2 separate regions of the Homo sapiens genome follow, and region 1 is linked to region 2. The links come from fine-mapping of genetic effects on gene expression. A gene starts in region 2. The other region holds a variant in brackets. All regions are shown on one strand. Distances are between the middles of the regions.

Region 1 (11,621 bases), 35 kb after region 2:
ACTAATGATGGTGAACAGACCAATAGCAGGAAAGCTACATCCCTTAGGGTTTCGCTGTGCAGTGGCACTTTCTGCCATGATGGAAATGACAGTCACCTGCACTGTCCGGTGCAGCAGCCACTAGCCACAGGGGCCAAGCACTCAGGTGAGGCGAGTGCAACCAGGACGTGATTCGTTTTAATTGGTTACAATTTAAACTGAAATAACCTTACATGACTAATGGCTGCAATTGGACAATGCAGCCTCAGACAGGACTGAATGCCAACCAGCTTCTCCAGATTCACTGAGCATCCTTGGGAGCATGGGCCCCCTACTCTGGGCCTGTTATGAATGCTGAGGCTTGGGGGCTTGGGGGTGTGGCCTTCCAACAACCCCACCCTGATGGGAGGGAGGGAGGGAGGGAAGGAGGGGACTTTCCCCAAACAAGCAGTCCCCTGGTCGAGGCAGCAGAGGGCCTTAGGTCAGGGGAGGTGGTGGGGGTTATCATTCAAGTTTACGGGGAAGGGTGGGTAGAGGGTCCTCTTCTCATCCCTGACTAGGCTCCTGGGCCCCCAGATCTGATTACCTTCACGGAAGGAAGCGGACGCTCACCACGCTATGCCCTCTGGTTCTGTGTGGGGGAGTCATGGCCCCAGGACCAGCCGTGGACCAAGAGGCTCGTGATGGTCAAGGTGCCTGCAGACCTGAGTCCCTGGGGCTGAAAGGGGTGGCCTTACAGAGGGAAGAGGTTGCTCCCAGGAACTCCAACTCCCAGAGGGCCCTCTAAAAAACTGCAACTTCCAAGATCTCTGCAATAACCAGTTTTTCATCCCCGGGAGCTCCTTCCCATGGCCTCACCTGCAGAACCTGTTTTGAACTCTCTAAACCAGTGGCCCCCAAACTATTTGGCACCAGGGACCAGTCTCATGGAAGATAATATTTCCACGGACAGGGAGGTGTGGTTTCGGGATGAAACTGCTCCACTGCAGATCATCAGGCATTAGATTCTCTTAAGGAGCAGCCGATCCCTCACGTGCGCAGTTCGATAGAGTTTGTGCTCCTCTGAGAATCTAATGCTGCCGCTGATCTCACAGAAGGCAGAGCTCAGGCAGTAATATTCCCCCACCCGCTGCTCACATCCTGCTGTGCAACCTGGTCCCTAACAAGCCGTAGGGGGGTTGGGGACCCCTGCTCTAAACCATGTAGAAGCTGGTGGACTCAAGTTTTAGCTGCCATTGTGAGGCCATGGCTGTGGCTCCCAGGAGTCAAGATCACAGACTGCTCAGCCCTGACGTGTGTGTGTGTGTGTGTTTGTGTGTGTGTGTAAAACTACAACTCCCAGCAGCCCTAGGCCTATGGTTCAGTTACAGCAGGGGGTGTGTGTGTGTGTGTGTGTGTGTGTGTGTGTGTGTGTGTGTGTAAAACTACAACTCCCAGCAGCCCTAGGCCTATGGTTCATCCTAGGTTACAGCAGGGGCTGCAGGGAGTTGTAGTCCTCCAAGCCCTGACTCCTACCTTGGTGGACAGTGGCTGGGTGTTTTCCCTGACTCCTGTCCCCACTTCCCCTGCAGGTTGTGCCCACGTGCCTCAGGGCCTTGGTAGAAATGGCCCGGGTAGGGGGTGCCTCCTCCCTGGAGAATACTGTGGACCTGCACATTTCCAACAGCCACCCACTCTCCCTCACCTCCGACCAGTACAAGGCCTACCTGCAGGACTTGGTGGAGGGCATGGATTTCCAGGGCCCTGGGGAGAGCTGAGCCCTCGCTCCTCATGGTGTGCCTCCAACCCCCCTGTTCCCCACCACCTCAACCAATAAACTGGTTCCTGCTATGATCACTTGTGCGTGTCTGGTGTTGGGTGCCCTCTGACCCAATATGGTTGTTATTCCCGCTCAGGGTCTCAGTTTACCCATCTGTGCAGCTATATACAACTCAGGTGCTCAATGCATGAAGACCAAGCACTGCAGGGGGCAGCTGACACCTCCTCACTTCTGCCCAGGGACCTGGTGGGTGATGGCTGTCCCCGTGTTGTAGACCAAGACACAGGCTGGGAGAGGCGCAAAGGTCACAGAGTAGGAAACACAAAGACTAGCCAGAACCCAGGCCCCCTGCCTTGCCTATGAACAGTTTGGGCAAGTGGTCCTTCTCCTTCCAGGCCTCAGGCTCCCCTCCACGTGGGGCTGGAGGGGTCTTGGTAAAGGGGCTCTGCGGCCACCCTGGAGCCTGCAAAGCCTGCCTGCCTGGTGACCCTGGGCACTGTCACCTCTCCTGGTTGGGCCGCAGTTCTGGGTGATGAAACTGGCAGAAGCCAGCGCAGCCCTGACTCACCCTTCGGCCCTTGCTGCTCTGTGCCTCAGTTTCCCTCTCAGGACAGTTGATGAGATCACCCCAGCTTCACGGGGCTGCTGAAAAGAGAAGCCAACTCAATGGGGAACACAGATCCTGCTCTGGGAGCAATTCCAAGGCAGGCACATGGCACCCAGGAGCCGAGCTGGGAAGATGCTGATCAGGTGGGGTCCGGCCCCTGCCTCCCTGTGAGCAGCTCGCTCCCAGCCAGAGACTGTGCTAAGTGCTCCACCTGTGTCTTGTTCAATCATCACAACACCCACTACACAGATAAGAAAACTGAGGCCCAGGGGAGGCAGCTGCCCCAAGTCACAGTCTGGTCTCTGTCTCCCATCCTCAGCCTCCTGGGGGTCCCTCCCCAACCCTCTGGCAAATTTGTCTCCGAAAACAAAGGGTTAGAACCATGGGGCTCAGGGGTAATGTTTCATGAAATCTTTAATGAAATTGGGGAGAGGGGCACAAACAGAAGGGAGGGGCACTGGGGACAGGCTTGGGGGCAAGGGAGGTGGACACGGGGCAGGGCAGGGCAGGGGGCTCTCCTCTTCCCTGCAGCAACCCTCCCCCAGTCATCCCACTGACGGGGGAGGGAGGTGGGGAGGTGGAGCCATAAATACGTCCAGAGTTTCAAAGAGGTGAGGGGCGAAGAGCTGGCCAGGGCTCTCAGAGAGGGGGCAGGGGCAGGCCCGGGCCACCCTTGTCTGGGGGCCCTGGCTCCTTGGGCGGCCGTGGGGGCCCTGGGGGGTCCCCTGGCTTGCGACCGTGCTTGCGGAAGTAGCGGTAGCGCTGGACGTAGGCCCGCACCAGGTTGCTCACCTTCACTGGGTTGATTTCCCCACTTTTGCTGTGGCAGATCTGGGGGGCCGGGGACAGTTGGAGTCACCACCAGGCTCCCGGGGCCCCATCCACCCAGGACTGTTGGGCGCAGCTTGGAACTGCGGTAGGAGGAGCTTCCCCAATAACCAGGCCAAAGTCCCTCTGTCCCCCTAGACGATGGGTGCCCCAGGGCCAGCGGAACAGGCCCAGGTGGCCTTGAGAAAATCCTGTCACCCTCCTCACCTCCCAGACTGACCTCCTCCCCGTCTCCCATCCGCGTCCATCTGTCTGCACACATCTGTCCCTCCAGCTCGTTCTCTCCCCGGCCTGTGTCTGCCCCTCTCTCCGGGTGCCCACCTTGTGGACGGCCTTCCTCAGGATGTCCTTGTACTCCTCCTTGGTGATGTCCTTCTTCTGATAGTATGGCTTGATGGCCAGCTTCACCTCCTCCACCGCCCGCTCCTGCGTGTGCAGCTTCTTCAGATACTGGTGGGGTGGCGACAGCGGGGGAAGACACAGCAAGGGCCAGTGAGTACCTGCGGAACCTCCACCTCCACTCGCCTCTGCTGCCAGCCTAACCTCTCTGGCCGTCCAGCTGCTCTCAGGCTGGAAGTCCTGCTGAGGGTCTGTCCCATGCGCCCTCTGCTGCAGGTGCCCGGGACCAAAGGCCAGGCCTGGGCCTCTGCATGTCACTGAACATCTCCTCCAGGCCGAACCCTGGGCTGCTCCAGGCCTGGCCGGGACCAGGACATGTGTGTCGCCTGCCCTCACAAAGTTCAGTCTGATGAGAAGACAGGCATTGGCCAAGAAATTGCAGCTGGTTTTGAATCAGACTCTAGAGGCGGGGCTGTAGAAAACTGCACAGGGCTTTTCACCGCGGGAGCGGGGAGGACTCAGTTTAGGTTTTTACAGTACTGCTCTGGTCACCCAGGGGATGGAGGGGGTGGCTAGGGGTGAGGGGCACTGGGGAGTGGGGGTGGGGACTGACCTTGAGCCCATTTGTATCAGAAGCCTGGTCTGCCACTCCCTGTCTCTGACCCCTGGGATGCTCAGCCAAACCTTTTTGTGGCTCCTTTTTTGTTTCTTTGTTTTTGAGACAGGGTCTCTCATTGTCATGCAGGCTGGAGTGCAGTGGCACAATCACTGCTCACTGTACCCCTGGTCTCCTGGGCTAAAGCGATCTTCCCACCTCAGCCTCCTGAATAGCTGGGACTAGATGTGCCACCCCCACGCCTGGCTAATTCTTGTACTTTTTGTGGCGACTAGGTCTCACTATGTTGCCCAAGCTGATCTTGAACTCCTGGGCTCAAGCGATTCACCCGCCTCGGCCTTGCGAAGTGTTGGAATTACAGGCATGAGCCACCGTGCCTGGCCACCTTTGTGGCTCATTTGTAAAACGGGGACAGCACCTATGGGCAGTACTACAGCGACACACATGGAGGACATGGCACAGGCTGGGTACAGAGCAAAGACTCAATCCAGGGGAGCTGTGCCTGTTCCAAGGGGGATGGCCATGGGATGAAAAGGGGAGGACGCAACAGGGACAGGGCAGAGAGCCTCCGAGGCAAGGCTCTTCCCGCCTGTGGCCAGCAAGCTAGGAGATCCCGCAGCCGCAGGCTCGGGGCAGCAGCTGCAGCCCTGGCCTCAGGCAGAATCCTTGCAAAAGCAGACAGGAAACCTCTAGCCAGAGAGCCACGTGGGACCAGAGAAGAACAGGCCTTCTGCAGGCACAAGGGACAGTCCCTTGGCACCACCCTTGGAGAAGCTGCCCTCCCAAGCCAGGTGACTATCAAAGTAGGGGCAGGTAAACTGAGTCCTGGGAAGGGCAGGGCACAATGGCTAGCCGACTCCAGGAGCAACATCAGTGACACTGTCTGACGAGCTACTGAGCTGTTAGGGAACTCTGTGGCCAGAAGAGACACAGGCTGCCCTGGAGGGACTTCTCAGGCTTGCCTGGCCCCACAGGATGTGGGTCTCTAGAGAGACGCTGCTCCCCAACACCCATCTCGGATGGGCAAAGCGGGGCAAAGGGCAGAGCACAGACCAGGGCAGAGCAAGGGCCACTGTAGACCAGGGGGTCCTCACCGTCCGAGTCCTGCAGCGCAAGGCACAAGCTACGGACAAGTGACCGACTAAACTGCAGCCCCGCCTCTGCGGCTCACACAGGATGTTTAATGGGGTTTATACAGCTTTATCTGGCACGGTACACAGCTGTGTAAGGGTGGCCAACGTCACCGTCTGGCTATGGGCTACTAGACTGTAAGAAAACACATCTAGGCTGGGTGCAGTGGCTCATGCCTATAATCCCAGCACTTTGGGAGGCTGAGGTGGGAGAATCACTTGAGCTCAGGAATTTGAGACCAGCCTGGGCAACATAGTGAGACCCCAACTCTACAAAAAATTAAGAAATGAGCTGGGCATGGTGGCGCGTGCCTGTAGTCCTAGCTACACAGGATGCTGACGTAGGAGGATCCCTTGAGCCCGAGAGATCAAGGCTGAGGCTACAGTGAGCTGTGACTGTGCCACTGCATGCCAGCTTGGGTGACAAAGCGAGACCCTGTCTCAAAAACCAACCAACCAAGGCCGGGCACGGTGGCTCACACCTGTAATCCCTGCACTTTGGGAGGCCGAGGCTGGCAGATCACCTGAGGTCAGGAGTCAAGACCAGCCTGGCCAACGTGGTGAAATGCCGTCTCTACTAAAAATACAAAAATTAGCTGGGTGTGGTGG[C/T]GGGTGCCTGTCATCCCAGCTACTCGGGAGGCTGAGGTAGGAGAATCACTTGAACCCTGGAGGCGGAGGCTGCAGTGAGCCGAGATGGCACCATTGCACTCCAGACCAGGTGACAGAGCAAGACTCCATCTCAAAGAAAAACAAAAACAAAAACCCACATCTAGACCTGACCAAGAGAGAAACAGCTCCAGAGCCCAGGAGTAGGAGCCGGCCAGAGCAGCTGAGTAAGAACCTACATTACTGTCTGCCTGGCACCCATTCTCCCCTGCTTCATCTACAAACAGGTTCTTGAGTTTTCATTCGGAAACCACCCTCCCCCACTCACAGAGACGGAGACAGCGCGAGCAACAGATAATCAAGGGGTGGGCTGCAGCGCGGGGCATCTCTTCCAGGGTGTGTATATGTGGTGTGTACGCACACAGCCCCACACACGCACAGACGCGATTTTCCTTTGGACACGCCTAACGCATTTCCTGCTCACCCATTCCAGCAAAGTGGAGTTCCTTATGGTTCCATGACTTTGGTCTCTACGGCCCTGTCTCCCTGCCTCAGTCTCCCTTTCTCCTTGGGCCCCCGCGTCTCAGTTCCTGTCCATATTCTCTACAGAACTGTCAGCACCGCCCCACCTCTCCCCAGGCCAGCTCACCTTATCTGTGTCCCCACGGCCCTCAGAGCTGCTGCTGCCCTCTCTCTTGTCAGACGTGGCAGCCAGCCCGGTGGGGGTGGGGGGGGTCGAACCGCAGCCCCCCAGAGGGAGGCTGCCAGGAAGCAGGTAGCTGGAGGGGCCAGGGGGCAGACCCAAAGAGGTGGGCACAGGAGCTGGGGTCATCCCCAGACTTGAGGGTGGCTTTCTGTGGCTGAGGATCTGTGGGACGAGGACAGAGGGGTGATGAGTAAAGGGAGGTGGAGGGGAAGAGGGGACGTGCACCCCACTGTTCCCACGCTGACTTCCCCACAGCTGAGGCAACAGGCTCCTCTTCAGGCCGATACCTTGCCCCAGAGCTGCCAGGCCCGCGGTTCCTCTCCTAACCCGAGGCAATGGACAAAAGAAGGGGCGGCAGGGACTCTCCCCCAGGGGAGCCCACCTGGTTGGTGGCCTGGATCAGCTCCTGGGCCTTCGCTCGGCTCGCCAGGTTGGCTTCTTCCATCTTGAAGAGAAGTGCAGTCACTGCAGGAGGCAGAGAGGTGACAACATGAAGATGGGAGAGGTGACAGGACAGGAGCTGGTGAACCTCACCTGGACACCTGCTGTCATCTCCTGCCCTTGGCCCCAGAACAGCCACAAAGCCTCACGCTCAGAACTGGGAAAAGGGGGCCTTGGCCAATGAGAGAACAGCCCATACCACGAATGTTCTTGGGACTCCAGGTGTGTGGGTGCGGGGTTGGCCAGGGTCATGCAGTGATGAGACAGTGGCAGGAGTGAGATTCTGCCTCCTGACCCGCTGTGGCCAGTCCCAACCTCTCTCCCCACCTCTGCAGTCTGGTAGAGGCAACCGCCATCCGTAAGGAATACGATGCCCTGCTCAAGCCATTCTTTCTGGTCCCTCTCTCCTACTCCCCGTCTAGGGGAATCCCAGAACCCAGCCCACCACTCCAGTCTGTGCTGGCCACCACCTGCTCTCACCGGCCCCTCTCTCCCAGTACACCCAGGCACCTAGAGCCTGGCTGGCCTTTACTCACCCCCACCCTCCCAGTCTATGTCCCTATAAACCTCTCCCTGCCAGGGCACCCCACTGCCTCTAAGTCTGTACCCTCCAGTCCCCATCCTGTCTCACCTGCCCCAGCACCACCCTCCCCCAGGGGACACTCACAGGCCAGGACGCCGCTGGTGGTGCAGTCCACACCAGCTGGCAGATTCCAGGGCATGGGCGGGGGCAACGTGGGCAGCTGGGAGACACGGGAAGCTGGCCCGTCCTCCGCCCCCGAGTCACCGGCTGTGGACCCCGCGCTGGGGGCAGTGCTTGGGGCGGCTGCAGCAGTGCTGGTGGCCGTGGTGGTAGCAGGCTGCTGCTCCTCCTCCTCTTCCTCTTCCTCCTCCTCTTCTTCTTCCTCCTCCTCCTCCTCCGCCCCACCTCGGACCCCAGCCTCCTCAGTGGCCTCCTCGGGCAGGAAGGAGACCTCAGGTGTCTTGCAGCTGCTGTCCACGGTCTGCGAGTCCGGAGTGAGGGCAGGGGGTGGTGGGGCTGCCTTGGGGGGCGGGGTGCTAGGAACCTTGGCTGCCCGCTCCTCCCCGGACCAGGAAGTCTCCTCCGCCCCCTTGGTGCCTGCCGCCTGGCTGCAGCTATCCGCCTTGGACTTCTTCAGCGACACCTGGCCACCACTGCCCCCGCTGCCACCTCCACTGCGGACCTTTTTCCTGGTCTTGGATGGCTTGGTCTTTCCCTTGGTCCCCTTGGTTTTCTTGGCCCCTGCCTTGGCCTTGACCTTGGTCTTTTTGGGCTTGGTGCTGCCCGGAGCTGCTTTGGCCATCTCAGTGGGGGCCCGCTCGTCAGGTTTGAGGAAGGGGGAGCGACTCTCGCGGTCACGGCTGAATTTGACGCCAATGGAGCCCAGGCCGGCTGACGCGGCATCCTTGGCCGGGGTGGTGCTGCTGACACCCTCGCGGATCAGCACCGCCACCTTGGACTGCAGCTTCACCTTCCGGGAAGAACAGGAGGACGACGAGGATGAAGAGCCTGAGCCGCTGCTGACTGGTGGCTTTGGCGGGGGCCCTGAGGAAGGCGCCGACTCCTTGGGGGGCCGGGCCTTCTTGGATGACCTGTCCCTGTCCCTATCTCTGTCCCTGTCCCGATCCCGGTCACCCCCGTCCAGCGCCTTCCGACGAGACCCCTTCTCCCGGGAAGAGGAGGAGGAGGAGGCGGCCCCCGAGCGGCGCCGATCCTTCTGGCTGCTCTTGCCGCCCCGCTCCTCGCCGCTCAGTCCCTCGGAGTCGTACAGGACCTCCCGCTTAGGTGAGGAGGCCGGAGCAGGAGAGGGTCCTCGGGGGTCGGACTTGTCAAGCCGGCCCACCGTGATGGTCCGCTTGATGGCGAAGAGGTCGTGGTCCGTGAGGTCCTGGATGGAGGGTGGCACGGCCCCCCGGCGGCGGCTGTCGCGGTCACCACACGAGGTGGAGCCAGAGGGCGGCGGGGCGGGCGCCGGGGCCTTCTCGCTGCCATCCCCAGACCGCTTCTCACCCCGGGACCGCGACCGCTTCTTCTTCTTCTTGCTGCCGCCACCGTCCCGGTGTTTCCCGCGGTGCCGCTCGCGCCTCGAGGACGACGATGAGGAAGTGGCCGGGGGCGGGGAGGCGGAGCGCCGCCGCCGTCGCCGCTTCTCCCGGGACCGCGACCTGCGGCTGCCCCCGCGGCGGCGGTCGGTGCTGCGCGAGCGGCGGCGGGTGGAGCGGGAGCGGGAGCGGGAGCGGGAGCGGCGGCGGGCGGACGACGAGGCGTGGGAGCCGGGCTTGCGGTCCCGCGAGCGGTGCTTCTTGGAGTCCCAGGGCGAGGCCGGGGCGGGCGGCGCTGGCTGGGTGCCCGACGAGGACGAGGCGGCCTCCTTGGCCTCGCCGCTGCGCTTGCGTTCCCGCCTGGACTTCTTGCGCGTGGGCGGACCAGCAGCGGCGGCCGGGGCGGGCGCGGGCGCCGGGGAGGGCGAGCGCTGGCGGTAGCGCTCCCGCCGTTGGGTCAGGATCTTGCGGCGCAGGTCCAGGCCGCCCCAGCGCGAGTCGGCGGCGGGCGGCGCGGGAGCCGGCTCCCCTAGGTCCACCTGCAGGGCGCCCTCGCCGTCCGACTCCGCATGCAGGGACAAGAAGTCGTCCCCCTCGGGGGCCCGCGGAGCGGGAGGCTGAGGAAGGGGCTGGGCCGTGGGGGTGGCCGAGGCGGCCGGTGTAGGCCGGGCGGCCCGGCCGCCGGGGCGGAAGAGGGACAGCGCCAGCCTGGGCTCCTCCTCCGGCTGGACGATCTCCCCTTCCTCGATCTCCGAGTCGCCGGGCGGCAGCAGGGGCGGCGGGAGGGCGGCTCCACCAGCGGTCACCACCTCCACCGAGACCTTGCCTTCCCGACAAGCCTCTGCCTCGGTCCCCACCACGAAGACCCGCCGGCGCATGGCTCCATCAGCCCGGGTGGAGTCCACCTGGGGCGGCGTTCCAGGGGCGGGAGTCGGCTGTGTGGGCTGCGCGTCCGGGCGGGGGCTCTCGTCACCTGGGAAGTCCTGGCTCAGGCTGTTGTCATCGTAGATGCCCGCCAGGGTCTCCGAGATGCGGCTGATGCTCTGGGACAGGCCTTCCTCCTCCTCCTCGTCTTCCTCTTCCTCTTCTTCTTCCTCTTCCTCCTCCTCTTCCTCCTCAGGTGAGGGGGTCCCCGCTGATGAGCTGGGGTTGGAGCCGGTGGGCTCAAAAGGGTCGTACTTTTGCTCCGGAGCAGGCGGTGGAGAGTAGGCCTCGTCGGTGGGGTGGAAGGGGTCATAGATATCGAATCGGGGGGCAGGTGGGGCTGGGGGTGCAGGGGGCGGTGGGGGTGGGGGAGGGGAAGGGGAGGAAGATGAGGGAGAAGGGGAAGGGGAGGAGGATGCAGAGGAGGGGGCAGGGGGTGGGGCAGGGCCCCCGTCTCCCGTGCCCAAGGTGAGGTGACGGGCACAGGTGGGCCTAGAGGAGTTCGACTGTGGAGAAACTGCAAAGGAACAGGGAGAGAGAGGCGGTCAGGGCCTTTGCCTCCCTCCTGGTGCCTGCTTGCTGGCCCAGCCGTGGACACTCCCTGGGCCACCAGGTCCTGCCCAGGAAGCCCCAAGTGCTTCACAGGAGCCAGCCGTAGGATGCTCCCAACAACTGCACACCATGGTTCTTAACCCAAAGGTCACAGGAGGAAACTGAGGCAGAGGGCTGCAGTATCCTCCCCAAGGGCACACAGAGAGAAGGCAGCAGTCAGGGTGTAAACTCAGTCAGTGCGGCCCCGAACCTGCACTCCCATATCCTGAGACAGCACTGGCCTGACCCTGGGCAATGTACCCTGGCCTTGAAACTAGGAACTATCTTGACCAGTGCCGGCGACCCATCCCAGGAGGAGGTGGAGGCTGCAGTGAGCTATGACCACAACACCACACTCCATCCTGGGGGGAGAAGAAACAGGAAAACAGGCTGCAGGGGGAGAGCTGGGATTCAAACCTAAGTCCCCCTCCAAGACAAAAACAAGCTCTGGCCTGCTGCGCCAGCTGCCTCTCGTGGGAGTTTCTCCCGTTTGGTAGAGGGTGAGATTCCAGTGCAGAGCCAGGAAATGGCAGAGCTGGGGAGCCCAGGAAGGCTGGTCTTCACCCCAAGCTCTTCACTCTGTGCTGAGTCCCCACCCAAGGAATTACATCTGCTCAGGACTCAAAGACACCACTGACCAGTGACAGTGGCAATGACAAAGGTTTGCCTCTTCCTCCAAACCAGGCATGGTGCTTCGTATGTCACCTCATTCGCCCCCAAAGAGCCCGCTGCACTGTGCTAAGTACTACAGTCATGATGCCACAGTCACACGATGGAGATGGCTGACAGAGGCCACACCACAGGCAAGGATGCCAGCAGAGTGGTGTGAGGACAGTGCCAGGGAAGGAGAGGGGTCAAGAGGGCAGCACCAGAGCCACCCCTTGATCCAGGGGCTGGCCCTCACCAGCCACATGACCACAGGCAAGTGGATCAATGTGTCTTACTTCAGTTTCCTCATCTATAAAATGGGGGTATGTTCATTCATCCAACACCCTTTATGGCCGGGTGGGGTGGCTCATGCCTGTAATCCC
Region 2 (10,956 bases):
ATGGCAAAACCCCATCTCTACTAAAAATACAAAAATTAGCCAGGCGTGGTGGTGGGAACCTATAATCCCAGCTACTCAGGAGGCTAAGGCAGAAAAATTGCTTAAACCCAGGAGATGGAGGTTGCAGTGAGCCAAGATCCTGCTATTGCACTCCAGCCTGGGCAACAGCAACAGAGTGAGACGCTGTCTCAAAAAAAAGGCCAGGGGCAATGGCTTATGCGTGTAATCCCAGTGCTTTGGGAGGCCAAGGTGGGCGGATCACGAGGTCAAGAGATCGAGACCATCCTGGCCAACATGGTGAAACCCCGTCTCTACTAAAAATACAAAATTAGCTTGGCGTGGTGGCACACGCCTGTAGTCCTAGCTACTTGGAGGCTGAGGCAGGAGAATCACTTGAACCCAGGAGGCAGAGGTTGCAGTAAGTCGAGATCACGCCACTGCACTCCAGCCTGGCAACAGACTGACTCCATGTCAAAAAAAAAAAAAAAAAAAAAGGCCAGGTGCAGTGGATCATGCCTGTAGTCCCAGCACTCTGAGAGGCCAAGGCGGGTGGATCACCTGAGATCAGGAGTTCGAGATCATCCTGGCCAACATGGTGAAACCCTGTCTATACTAAAAATACAAAAAATTAGCCGGGCCTGGTGGCAGGCACCTGTAATCTCAGCTACTTGGGAAGCTGAGGAAGGAGAATAGCTTGAACCCATGAGGCGGAAATTGGAGTGAGCCAAGATCATGCCATTGCAATCCAGCCTGGGCAACAAGAACAAAACTCCGTCTCAAAAAAAAAAAAAAAAAAAAAATTGTGCATTTTTCTCCATGTAATGTTATCATATATATGTGTGTGCATGTATATATTTATAGGTCTATAAATATGTATGTATCTATGTATGTATGTATTTAAACACACGAAAAGGATGGCCACATGTTTGTTTTTTTTTGAGACGGAGTCTCGCTTTGTTGCCCAGGCTGGAGTGCAGTGGCACGATCTCGGCTCACTGCAAGCTCCGCCTCCTGGGTTCACGCCATTCTCCTGCCTCAGCCTCCCAAGTAGCTGGGACTACAGGTGACTGCCACCACGCCCAGCTAATTTTTTTGTATGTTTAGTAGAGACGGAGTTTCACTGTGTTAGCTAGGATGGTCTTGATCTCCTGACCTCGTGATCTGCCCGCCTCGGCCTCCCAAAGTGCTGGGATTAGAGGCGTGAGCCACCATGCCTGGCCAAGGATGGTCACATGTTAACACTTTAGTTGGTAGACTGGCCTGAGGCCCAAGGAGTCCCAGGGTAAGGGCGGGAGAGGGATTCGGAGTTCAAGGCAGTGGCTGTTTGCCAACTGGAACAGATTATACAACCAACAAGACCACAGAGGTTCAGTTTAGCCTGCTGAAGCATCCCAGCTTCAGGAGATCCTCCTGGCCGCCGGCTCCCACCCCCTTTTTTTTTTTTTTTTTTGAAACGGAGTCTTGCTCTGTCACCCAGGCTGGAGTGCAGTGGCGCAATCTTGGCTCACTGCAATCTCTGCCTCCTGGATTCAAGTGATTCTTCTGCCTCAGCCTCCCAGGTAGCTGTGATTACAGGTGCCTGCCACCACACCCGGCTAATTTTTGTATTTTTAGTAGAGATGGGGTTTCACTATATTGGCCAGGCTGGTCTTGAACTCCTGACTTCGTGATCTGTCTGCCTTGGCTTCCCAAAGTGCTGGGATTACAGGCGTGAGCCACCGCACCTGGCCTGCCACCCCCTTATTTAACTGCAACACCCCCACATCACTCTTCTCTACCCGATTTATCATTCACCATAGCATGTGTCACCATCAATATCAGATGACACTATAGAATGTCACCATACCCTATATTTTGCTCATCTGTTTTATTGCCTTCTGTTTTGCTCATCTGTTTTATTGCCTTCTCCCCCAACTCGAATGAGAACTCTATAAAAGCAGGATTCTGTCTTTATTATTTATTTATTTATTTATTTATTTATTTATTTATTTTTTATTTTATTTTATTTTTTTTTGAGACGGAGTCTCGCTCTGTCGCCCAGGCTGGAGTGCAGTGGCGCCATCTTGGCTCACTGCAAGCTCCGCCTCCCGGATTCACGCCATTCTCCTGCCTCAGCCTCCTGAGTAATTGGAACTACAGGCACCCACTACCACACCAGGCTAATTTGTGTGTGTGTGTATTTTTAGTAGAAACGGGGTTTCACCGTGTTAGCCAGAAGGGTCTCGATCTCCTGACCTCATGATCCGTCCGTCTCAGCCTCCCAAAGTGTTGGGATTACAGGCATGAGCCACCGTGCCCGACCTGTCTTTATTTTTTTAATAGAGATGGGGTCTCCCTATGTTGTCCAGGCTGGTGTCCAAGTCCTGGGCTCAAGTGATCCTCCTGCCTCAGCCTCCCAAAGTGCTGGGATTAAAGCCGTGAGCCCGCAGTGCCCAGGCGTGATTCTGTCTGTTGATATCTGCTGTGTTCTCCATGCTAAAGAGGGCCAGGCCCTTACCGGATGCCCCATAAATATATGGTGAATGAATGAAGAACAATATCAGAAGCTAACACTCAGACCTCGCCATGGGCCAGGACATAGAAGAATTAATTTAGTCTTCAAGGCTATCCTGTGAGGGAGGTGCTGTCAACACCCATGTTTTCCACGAGGGGAAACTGCGACTCCAAGAGAGGTGCTTGCCCAAGATGACACAGCTACTAAGCGGTGGAGTCAGGATTCAAACTCAATCATGACCCCACAGGTGTTCCAGACCCCAGTTCACACACAGAGGATGTGACAAGCAGGGAGTCCCTGTATGGAGACAGTGCAAGAGTTCTAGAACCAGAAACCCTGGGACAGACATGGGTGCTGGTTACACATTGGGCATGCGCATTCCAGAACAGGGACAGAGCAGGAGTTTGGGCCGGGCGCGGTGGCTCATTCCTGTAACCCAAGCGCTTTGGGAGGCAGATCACTTGAGGTCAGGAGATCGAGATTAGCCTGGCCAACATGTTGAAACCCCGTCTCTACTAAAAATACAAAAATTAGCTGGGCGTATAATCCATGCCTGTAATCCCAGCTACTCGGGAGGCTGAGGCAGGAGAATCGCTTGAACCTGGGAGGTGGTTGCAGTGAGCCAAGATCACCCCACTGCATTCCAGTCTGGGCAACAGAGTGAGACTCTGTCTCATAAATAAATAAATAAATAAGCCAGGCATGGTGGCGTGCGCCAATAATCCCGGCTACCTGGGAGGCTGAGGCAGGGAATTGCTTGAACCCAGGAGGCGGAGGTTGCAGTGAGCTGAGATCCCGCCACTGCACTCCAGCCTGGGCGACAGAGTGAGACTGTGTCTCAGAAACAACAACTACAAAAGAAGCTGGAGATGAAAGGAAGAAATGATAATTTCACCATAAGGGAAGGATATGGAGTTCTAGAAACTGGAAGTGGGTAGTTTTTGGGGGGCCCAGTTCCCCTCTTGGGTGAAAGAAGTGAGCAGAGGTTCTCAGCAGGTGGGGCTGTGGATCCCAGAAGTGAGCCACGGAGAAATTGCTAAAGGGGTCCTGGGAGCAGACATCAAAATTCTAAGAAAAAGGGGTGATAGTCTCCCAGAAATGAACCAGCTGAAATGCCGGAAGTGAGCCTCAGACATCCCGGAAGCAGAAACCTGGATCCCCGGAAGGAAACCGACCAGCACCGCTCCTCACCCAGAAACGTGAGAGATGCCTTTTCCAGGAGCGCAGGCCAGAGAGGTAGATCTCCTGCAGCACAGGGGCACTGAGTTCCACTTCAGCCCCGTCCGAGGTCAGCGAGGGTCGGAAGCCCACGGCCTGGTGCGCTTCAGCCATGTCACGCTGGAGCCCTGAGTCGGGCAGAGTCATACTTCAGGACCCCAGCCCCTCCGCCCTCAGACTCAGGAGTCCAGGCCCCCAGCCCCTCCTCCTCCTTCATACCCAGGAGTCCAGGCCCCAGTCCCTCCTCTCTCAGATCCAGGAGTCCAGGCCCCCAGCCCCTCCTCCCTCAGACCCAGAAGCCCAGGCCCCAGCCCCTCCTCTCTCAGATCCAGGAGTCCAGGCCCCCAGCCCCTCCTCCCTCAGACCCAGAAGCCCAGGCCCCAGCCCCTCCTCCCTCAGACCCGGGATCTCACGCTTTCAGCTGCCTTTTTGCGCCGACCCAGGACTACATAACCTAGCTCATCCTTCTCTAAGCACCTGAAGGGTCTTGAGGGTCCTGGTTTGTAGACCCGGAGGTTTTGAGGGAAGGACGTCAATTCGGGACCTCTGGGAACGCATAGAGAGGCCAGAGGGATAGCTCGCGTTAACCCCTTTACCTGCTCTCCCAAGAACATGGTGCGGGGGCAGTGCCCTCCCCCCAGTACAGGATTCTCAAGATTCGGGGGTGGGTGGAGGAGGGAAACTGGTCCAGGCTGAGTTGCGGGGTCTTGAGAAAAGCATTAGTTTTAGACCCATATGAAACAAACACCTGTTAGACATTGACGCTGTCCACCCCATTGCCGCTTTTCATGCCAAGGCGAGGGGGATGGTGTCTATAAATTCATCCGCTCAGCGTCCCCTCCCCCCGCCCGTGCTGGAGGGAATGGGGAAGGAAGCACCCACTGCGCATGCCTCGCAGCCTGGGATGCTGAGGCTGTGAGCGGAGGCGAGCGTCGAGGACAAGTGATGGAGAGGCTTGCACGCCCAACCCTAGACACAGGACTCCAGGCCCCGCCGGAGCCCGAGCCCCTGGGGTCCAGTACTTACCACGTTGAATCAAGGGTCCGCTGATCGGATCCTGGGGTCCAAACCCGAGTCCACCCCCGCCCCCCGATTTTGAGCGCCGGCCCCAAATCTCCCGCTTGCATATGTCCAATCCCAGTGCAAGGAGTCCACCACCGGGTCGACGGGCCTTTGGAGTCCTGCCCACCCCGAGATCACCGTCACCCAGAAACCCCGATTCCTCTCTCTCGTGTCCCTAGCCGGGTATTCAGGTCCCGGGTTTTATCCCCGCCTCCTTCCAATCCCCGCGTTCTATCCCCGCCCCCTTCGAGCCACGGCGTCCAATCCCCTACATCCGTTCGATCCCCAGTCCTCCGTCTCCTTTTACCCGGCCAGATTCTCCACCATTTGGCCGCTCGCATTCTACGCAGCTGTTCGGAACCCGGGTTCCTGGGCTCCTCACTCAGCTCATTGTCTCTTAGTCTCCTGTCTCTTCGAGGAACAAGGCTCAGCTGGGAGGTCGCAGCCCACCCCAGGTGCATTATAACGTCAGGCGCGTAGGGTGCCGGAGCAAATCTCAGCCCTTTCACGCCAGGGAGGGAGGAGGGATGTTTGGGGGTCAGGACGGCCCGCCAAAACCACCCACGGAAGGTGCATGGATTGAGTTGGCAAGAAAGGCGCCACAGCGGGTTGGATTCAAGGTAGACAGTGGGACTTCCGTGAGGGAGAAGCAGCATGGCTAATAGAGAAAGGTATATTAGAGACCCAGCCTCGACTGAGAGGTCGAAATAGGTACAGAGAAGCAGAGACTGAAACACGGAACTCTTGTTTATTCGGCTCTGGGCGTCAGTGTTCTTCGCCCAGCCTGGTCCCGTGTGCTTCTAGGTCCAACCTAGTCGCAGCCCGGGGAGGGACTGGGGAAGACGGTTTCAGGGGCTGGAGTTAGGGGAGAAGAAATGTGGAGTAGAAGCTCCAACATACAGATAGGCAAACTGAAGCCGAGGAGGGGACGAGCCGTGCCCGAGGTCACCCAGCGAGCTGGGCACTGCGCTAGCCCCCTCGCTGCAGGCCGGAATCCTGGGAACCGAGCCGGGCTTCCGCCTCGCGCCACCGGCGGCGCCCATAGCTGTAGGGGTCCTGGGGCTCGTGGCTGGCCTTCCCCGAGGGCTCCTTGGTGGAGACAGCGAATCCAGTATATGATCTCCGCCAGGCGGTGGGTCCGGCATACGCCCAGGTAGCAGACGTGCCCGCGGTGCTGGGGGACCTGGTGCTGGCCTCGCCTGGAGAGGGAGCGTGGGAGAAAACCGGGTTCAAACCGAATTGAGAGATGGAGCGTGATGGAGGTGGGCACCCAAGCACTCCAAGACCAGCGGGGAGGCTTACAGATCACCTGCCCGTTCCGCGGCCGGGAGAGGGCGCTCGCCCTTTACGGTCTCCCTCCCGCCCTGTCCCTGCTGCCACCCGGGTTTCTCACCTGGCTGCAGTGTCCAGGTCCCCTTGGGCGGAGAAGGCGAGGAGCAACAGCAGGATGAGGATGTGGATAGTCATCGTGGGCAGGGCGGGTCAGGATCCGTGGCCCGTAGTTGCGGCCACCCCGCCCCGTTCCCGCACCGGGCTGATCGCCTCTGGGTGCAGCTCTGGAGCCAGGTACCAGGGCCAGTCCCCACTTCCCAGGCGGGGAACACTGAGGCCAAAAGTCTGTGGGAAGAGGCCGCACCACACCAGAGGGGCAGGATTCAAACCCGGGTCCCCGCTTCCCGCACCGCGGCTCCAGAGACCTCACTGGGTGTGTGGGGTCACACCAGCTGCTGTCTATCCCCCTAGGAGGTCTGTGGAGACTCGCCCCCTTCAAAGCGTGGGGAAATGGGGCGGGGCCAATGACACCCGCAGGTAGCTAAGCAGCGGGATTCCAAGAAAAGGGGTGGCGGCGGGGAAGCGCTGGCTCTGGTTGTAGATGCGACCTCACCCTCACCCTGTCGGGAAGCCGGTTAGTAGACAGTTGGGACCCTGGAACCTCGGGGGCCAGGCAATGCAGGGCAAGTGCACATGCGGCCCCCTGGAGGGCGTGGAGCGAGGGAGACCCCAAACACACTGAGGAGCGCCCCTCCGGAAGAGAAAAGGCCGAGGTGTCAGGCACTCGCCGGTGAGGGCTCCAGTTGCACTGAAGCAGGTGTAGCCAGGGCTGTTCAACGAGGAGGGTGTCCTGGGTCAACCAGGTCGAGTGCACAGTATTGTGGGGGACCCAGGACCCCGTGGCCAGGCCCTGAGGGTGGAAGGGTGGGTGCAGACGCCATGTCTGCAGCAGAGGCAGAGGGACCTCGTCTTCACCTCTGTAAGATGGGTAGGCCCTGCCACCTTACAGCTGCAACTCCCACTGACCTCCATGGAGGGCAAGTCCCCAGCCCTAAGCCCCAAGCCATTCTAGGGGAGGAAGCAGGGCCACTCCCCCATGAGAAATTCTATCCTTGCAAACATACACCCCCAACCCACTCAGTGTCCCCAGCTGCAGAGGGCTGGGCACAGTTGGGCCTTGAAGGGACCCGAACAGGAAAAAACAGCCAGAGAGGAACAATGTCGAGTGTTGGGGGGAGGTGGGGAGACTGTTCTGGGAAACTTGAGGGCTGGCTGTGCTGGAAAGCCACCCCCATCCCCTACTAGGCAGGACACGGGTACCGCAGAGGGGAGGGGCGCAGACCCAGGAGAGGGATGAAAAGAGTTGGACAAAGACCCTGAGAGACAGCTGTGGAGGACAGGGACCCCGAGAAGGAACCAAGGAAGGGGAGCAAGAGGCCTAGAGACGGGGGACGGGAGACGCAGATCCACAGAATGGCAGCCACCAGCAGGTGCCAAGGCCGGTCCCCCCACTGCTGAGGCTGGCACTGCAGTACCTGCGAAAGGAACCCCAAACCTCCTTTGCCCCCAGGAAACAAAGCCAGACCCCAGCTGAGGATTTATTGGCGTAAATGCAACCATATAAAAACATAAGTTATGAAAAACACAGTCACGATGTGCCCTCCCCATCCCCCCAGCCCAGGCCCCTAAAACCCCCTTCTGCGGGAGGGAGGGAGAGGAAGGGGGAGCCCCGAAACCGCCTAGGAACGCTCAGCCCCTGGGCTCGTGCAGGGCGGGAGAGCCGGGCCTCAGCGCATCCGGTAGTCGGTGGAGCAGGACAGCTCGCACAGCTGGCCCTTGAAGTCCAGGTCGATGGTGAAGTCCAGGTCCCGCTGCAGGGAGAGGTGGGGCATGAGGGCGGAACCCACCAGGAGGTGGTGGCGGGGGGCGGGTGCAGGCAGGCTATGCGACGATGAGCCGGGCTCCAGCTTCCTGCCCATCTCCACGCTGCAGACCCCAACTGCTGGTCCCACCCTAGCAGCTGCCCTGACCCTGCCAAGGGACAGCACCACATGGACACCCCCAAGCCCACTAGACTCACTCAGGAGTAGAGCCCAGCTGCTGTCCCTTGCCCTTGGATTTCTCCATCAGGATGATTCCCATCAGCAATGCAGTGATTGCTTCTTTCATAAAAAAGAAAACCTCTCCCAAGCCCACTTCCTCCTCAGGCAAACGTTCCAGTGAAACACAATGGTCCAGCCTGCTGTCTCCACTTCCTCTCCTCCCCCCATACCCTCCAGCACATGAAGATGAGACAAAGTCACCAACGCCCGAGGACTCCTCCTCCCTCTCCAGTATCCGTTTCCCAGCTAGTGCCGTGGTCCCGGGGGCTGCATGAGTCTTTGTAGGGGGTGGTCCTGTGGCTGCAGGACATTTACCAGCCCCCTGGCCCCTACCTACCAGATGCCAGGACCACCCCTTCTCCGGAGTGACAACCACAAATGTTTCCACAGACGGTGGCAAACGTCCTGGGGGGGGGCGGGGAGCGGAGGGGGCAGTAAAACTGCCCAGTTGACAACTGCTGCTGTCACAGGCTCGTGGGTGTCCCAGGGTCCACATTCCATGACTACCCTGAGTGCCACCCACCCTCGCACCCATCGGCCGGGACCCACTTTTCCAACCCAGACCACTCCCGGCGACTCCAGGCTCCAAGCCTTCCATCCTCCTGCCTGCTCAGACCCACCACACTGGATCTCTGCCCAGACCCTGTCTCCGAGAAGCCCCCCCAGCTCCCCCGGAAGCCCCCTGATCTCAGGTGATGGCAGCTCCTGCCAAGTGCTCAGGAGGAAAAAGAAAGGGGAGCAGAAAACAAAAAGCTGCCTTTCTCCTCTCATGCCTCCCAGCTGGGCTAGAAAACCCCGTGCACTCTACTGGGGGCTGCCTCTTGCCCTGGAGCCCACCTACACCAACACCTGTCTGCCCTGCTCCCAGCCTGACAGAGGTCACCTCCAACTGGCATCACCATGTCACTGACCCCCTTGTCTAGAGTGGAAGCACCAGGAGGGCAGGGTTTCAGCCTGGGTCCCCAGGCCCATAACTTCCGGTGAATGCTCAAGCAATCCTGCTGTGTAGACAGGCATGGGGCTGAGGGGCTTGGGGACCCGGGAATAGGCAGAGGTGCTCGCCCCCGCCAGCTGCCCCCATCCCCCACCCCGGCTGCCCCCATCCCCTACCCCCGCTGCCACCATTCCTCCCCCACCACTCCCCCCCCAATCTACACTCCCCGCCCTAGCTGCCACCCTCCCACCCAGCTGCCCGGAGCCTCACGTTGTTCTTGGCGTTGGGCCGCATGCCGATGGTGCCGAAGATCTCCTCGCCCGTCTTCACGGTCAGGTAGTCCTCCATGTAGAACACCGTCTGCTTCCAGTGCGTGTACGGGGACTCGGGGCCTGGGGGCGCGGGCGGGTCAGCCGGCCTCGGCCTGCTGCCCCCCCCAACCCCACCCTTGCGTTCCCTCTGTCGGAATGCCCACCCCCATGACAGCTGATGGGACTGCTATCCGCGAGTCACCTCCCTGTCATTGAGCTTTGGAGACAGGGACCGTGTCAGCCTTTTGTGGATGAGGAAACTGAGGCACTGCACACTCAGGTCACTTGCCCAAGGCCACGTGACTGCTACATGGCAGAGCTCACACTGGAACACGCGTGTCCCCATGGTTCCTTCTGCCCGTTTCTGTCACCCCCTCCACTACGTGGGTGCGCCTCCGCCCTGGCTCGGGAACGGCCCCCAGCCCTGTGGGCCCCGCCTCACTGGTGGAGAAGCCGGTCCTCTTGTGGCAGCGTGTGAACTCGATGTTGAAGTAGGCCACCAGGGCGTGCACGTAGTCATTCCGCTTCACTTGCAGGCAGAACGGGGAGGTGAAGGTCAGGTCTTCCACCTTGACGGTATAGATGTCCACCTCCTGCAGGACATGAGAGGGCGAGCTCCGGGATGCGTCCCCACCTCGCTTCATCCCCTCCTCCCTCCCTTAAGCTCCCAGAGGGCCTGTGACCTCGCTGTCCCCTTCCTGCTAGCCCTCCCTCACTGGCACCCAGCCTCGGCTCCTCCTTCACTCTGCATCCTGCCTATCCGGCTCCCAATAAACCATGTGGGTTCGAGCCCAGATTCCTTGCTCCCTCCTCTCCAACACCCAAACCTGGCAGTGCCACCCTAACTCTGTCCAGACCTCCTAGAATGCAGGCGCCCCACTCCACTGTCTCCCCAACCCCTTGACAAGTCCAACAACATGATGGCTTCAAACGGCAACACAAATGCCAACCTAAACCCTGCGCCAGTTCCCCTGGCTCTCAGGAGGGTGGCCCGAGTGGGGTCCCTGCCCCTGTAGTCTCCTCTCCTCCCCCACTCAACAACTTACTCCTCCCCGACAGGATCCCCCGGTCAGCCACCCAGCTTCACCCGGCTCACACATCCCAGCTCAACAAATACTCATCGCCGTATTTTTTTTTTTTAAACAGGGTCTCAGAAGTAAAAAAAAACAAAAGGAAAAAACAAAACAAAACATTGTCACCAAAGCTGGAGTGCAGTGATGTGATCACAGCTCACTGCAGCCTTGAACTCCCAGGCCCAAGTGATCCTCCCGAGTAGCTGGGACCTCAGGCACATCTCGGAGCCCAGCCTGGCCCCGTGCTCTTCTGCAGTGGCCCGCGTGCATGTGCATCCGCTCATCGCCCTGGGGTCCTGCCTTTCCGTGCATGGGCTGTGGGCTTTAGCTGCCAGCTTTGGGTGTTTCCTCCGCCAGAAGCCAAGTGCCAAGCATGGTTCTCACACAGCAGCGCTCACAAAGATATTTAAAGGACGAAGTGTCTTTCCTGGGCCTCTAGCACCACCTCTGGCTGGCAGATCAGGCTCTGAGACCTCAGGCCAACATTCTG

What was found. PIP is the estimated chance that this variant, and not a neighbour inherited with it, causes the effect. A credible set is the group of variants that fine-mapping cannot tell apart.
Region 1: its variant is the best candidate, but not a certain one, in a credible set for the expression of ADM5 in whole blood (TOPMed, PIP 0.59).

Annotation. Positions count from the first base shown.
Region 1 is chr19:49,649,763-49,661,383 of GRCh38, reverse strand. SCAF1 (SR-related CTD associated factor 1) reads right to left here. Exons shown (of 11, transcript NM_021228.3): 7 at 7,679-10,516; 8 at 6,953-7,035; 9 at 6,514-6,732; 10 at 3,495-3,623; 11 at 2,742-3,176. The coding sequence ends at 2,985. IRF3 (interferon regulatory factor 3) reads left to right here. Exons shown (of 8, transcript NM_001571.6): 7 at 556-671; 8 at 1,551-1,812. The coding sequence ends at 1,736. Among named protein-coding and RNA genes, the nearest start is that of IRF3, 10 kb to the left of the region's middle. RefSeq lists enhancers at 2,597-3,300, 4,921-5,696. The variant C/T (reference allele first, on the strand shown) is at 5,868.
Region 2 is chr19:49,685,123-49,696,078 of GRCh38, reverse strand. ADM5 (adrenomedullin 5 (putative)) reads right to left here and starts at 6,485. Exons shown (of 2, transcript NM_001101340.2): 1 at 6,168-6,485; 2 at 5,504-5,973. The coding sequence starts at 6,241. The coding sequence ends at 5,586. It overlaps PRMT1 (protein arginine methyltransferase 1), which reads right to left. Exons shown (of 11, transcript NM_001536.6): 9 at 9,836-9,986; 10 at 9,353-9,474; 11 at 7,632-7,917. The coding sequence ends at 7,834. CPT1C (carnitine palmitoyltransferase 1C) reads right to left here and starts at 4,963. Exons shown (of 20, transcript NM_001199753.2): 1 at 4,739-4,963; 2 at 4,190-4,258; 3 at 3,686-3,840. The coding sequence starts at 3,826. RefSeq lists a silencer at 6,026-6,095 and enhancers at 7,404-8,144, 8,145-8,886.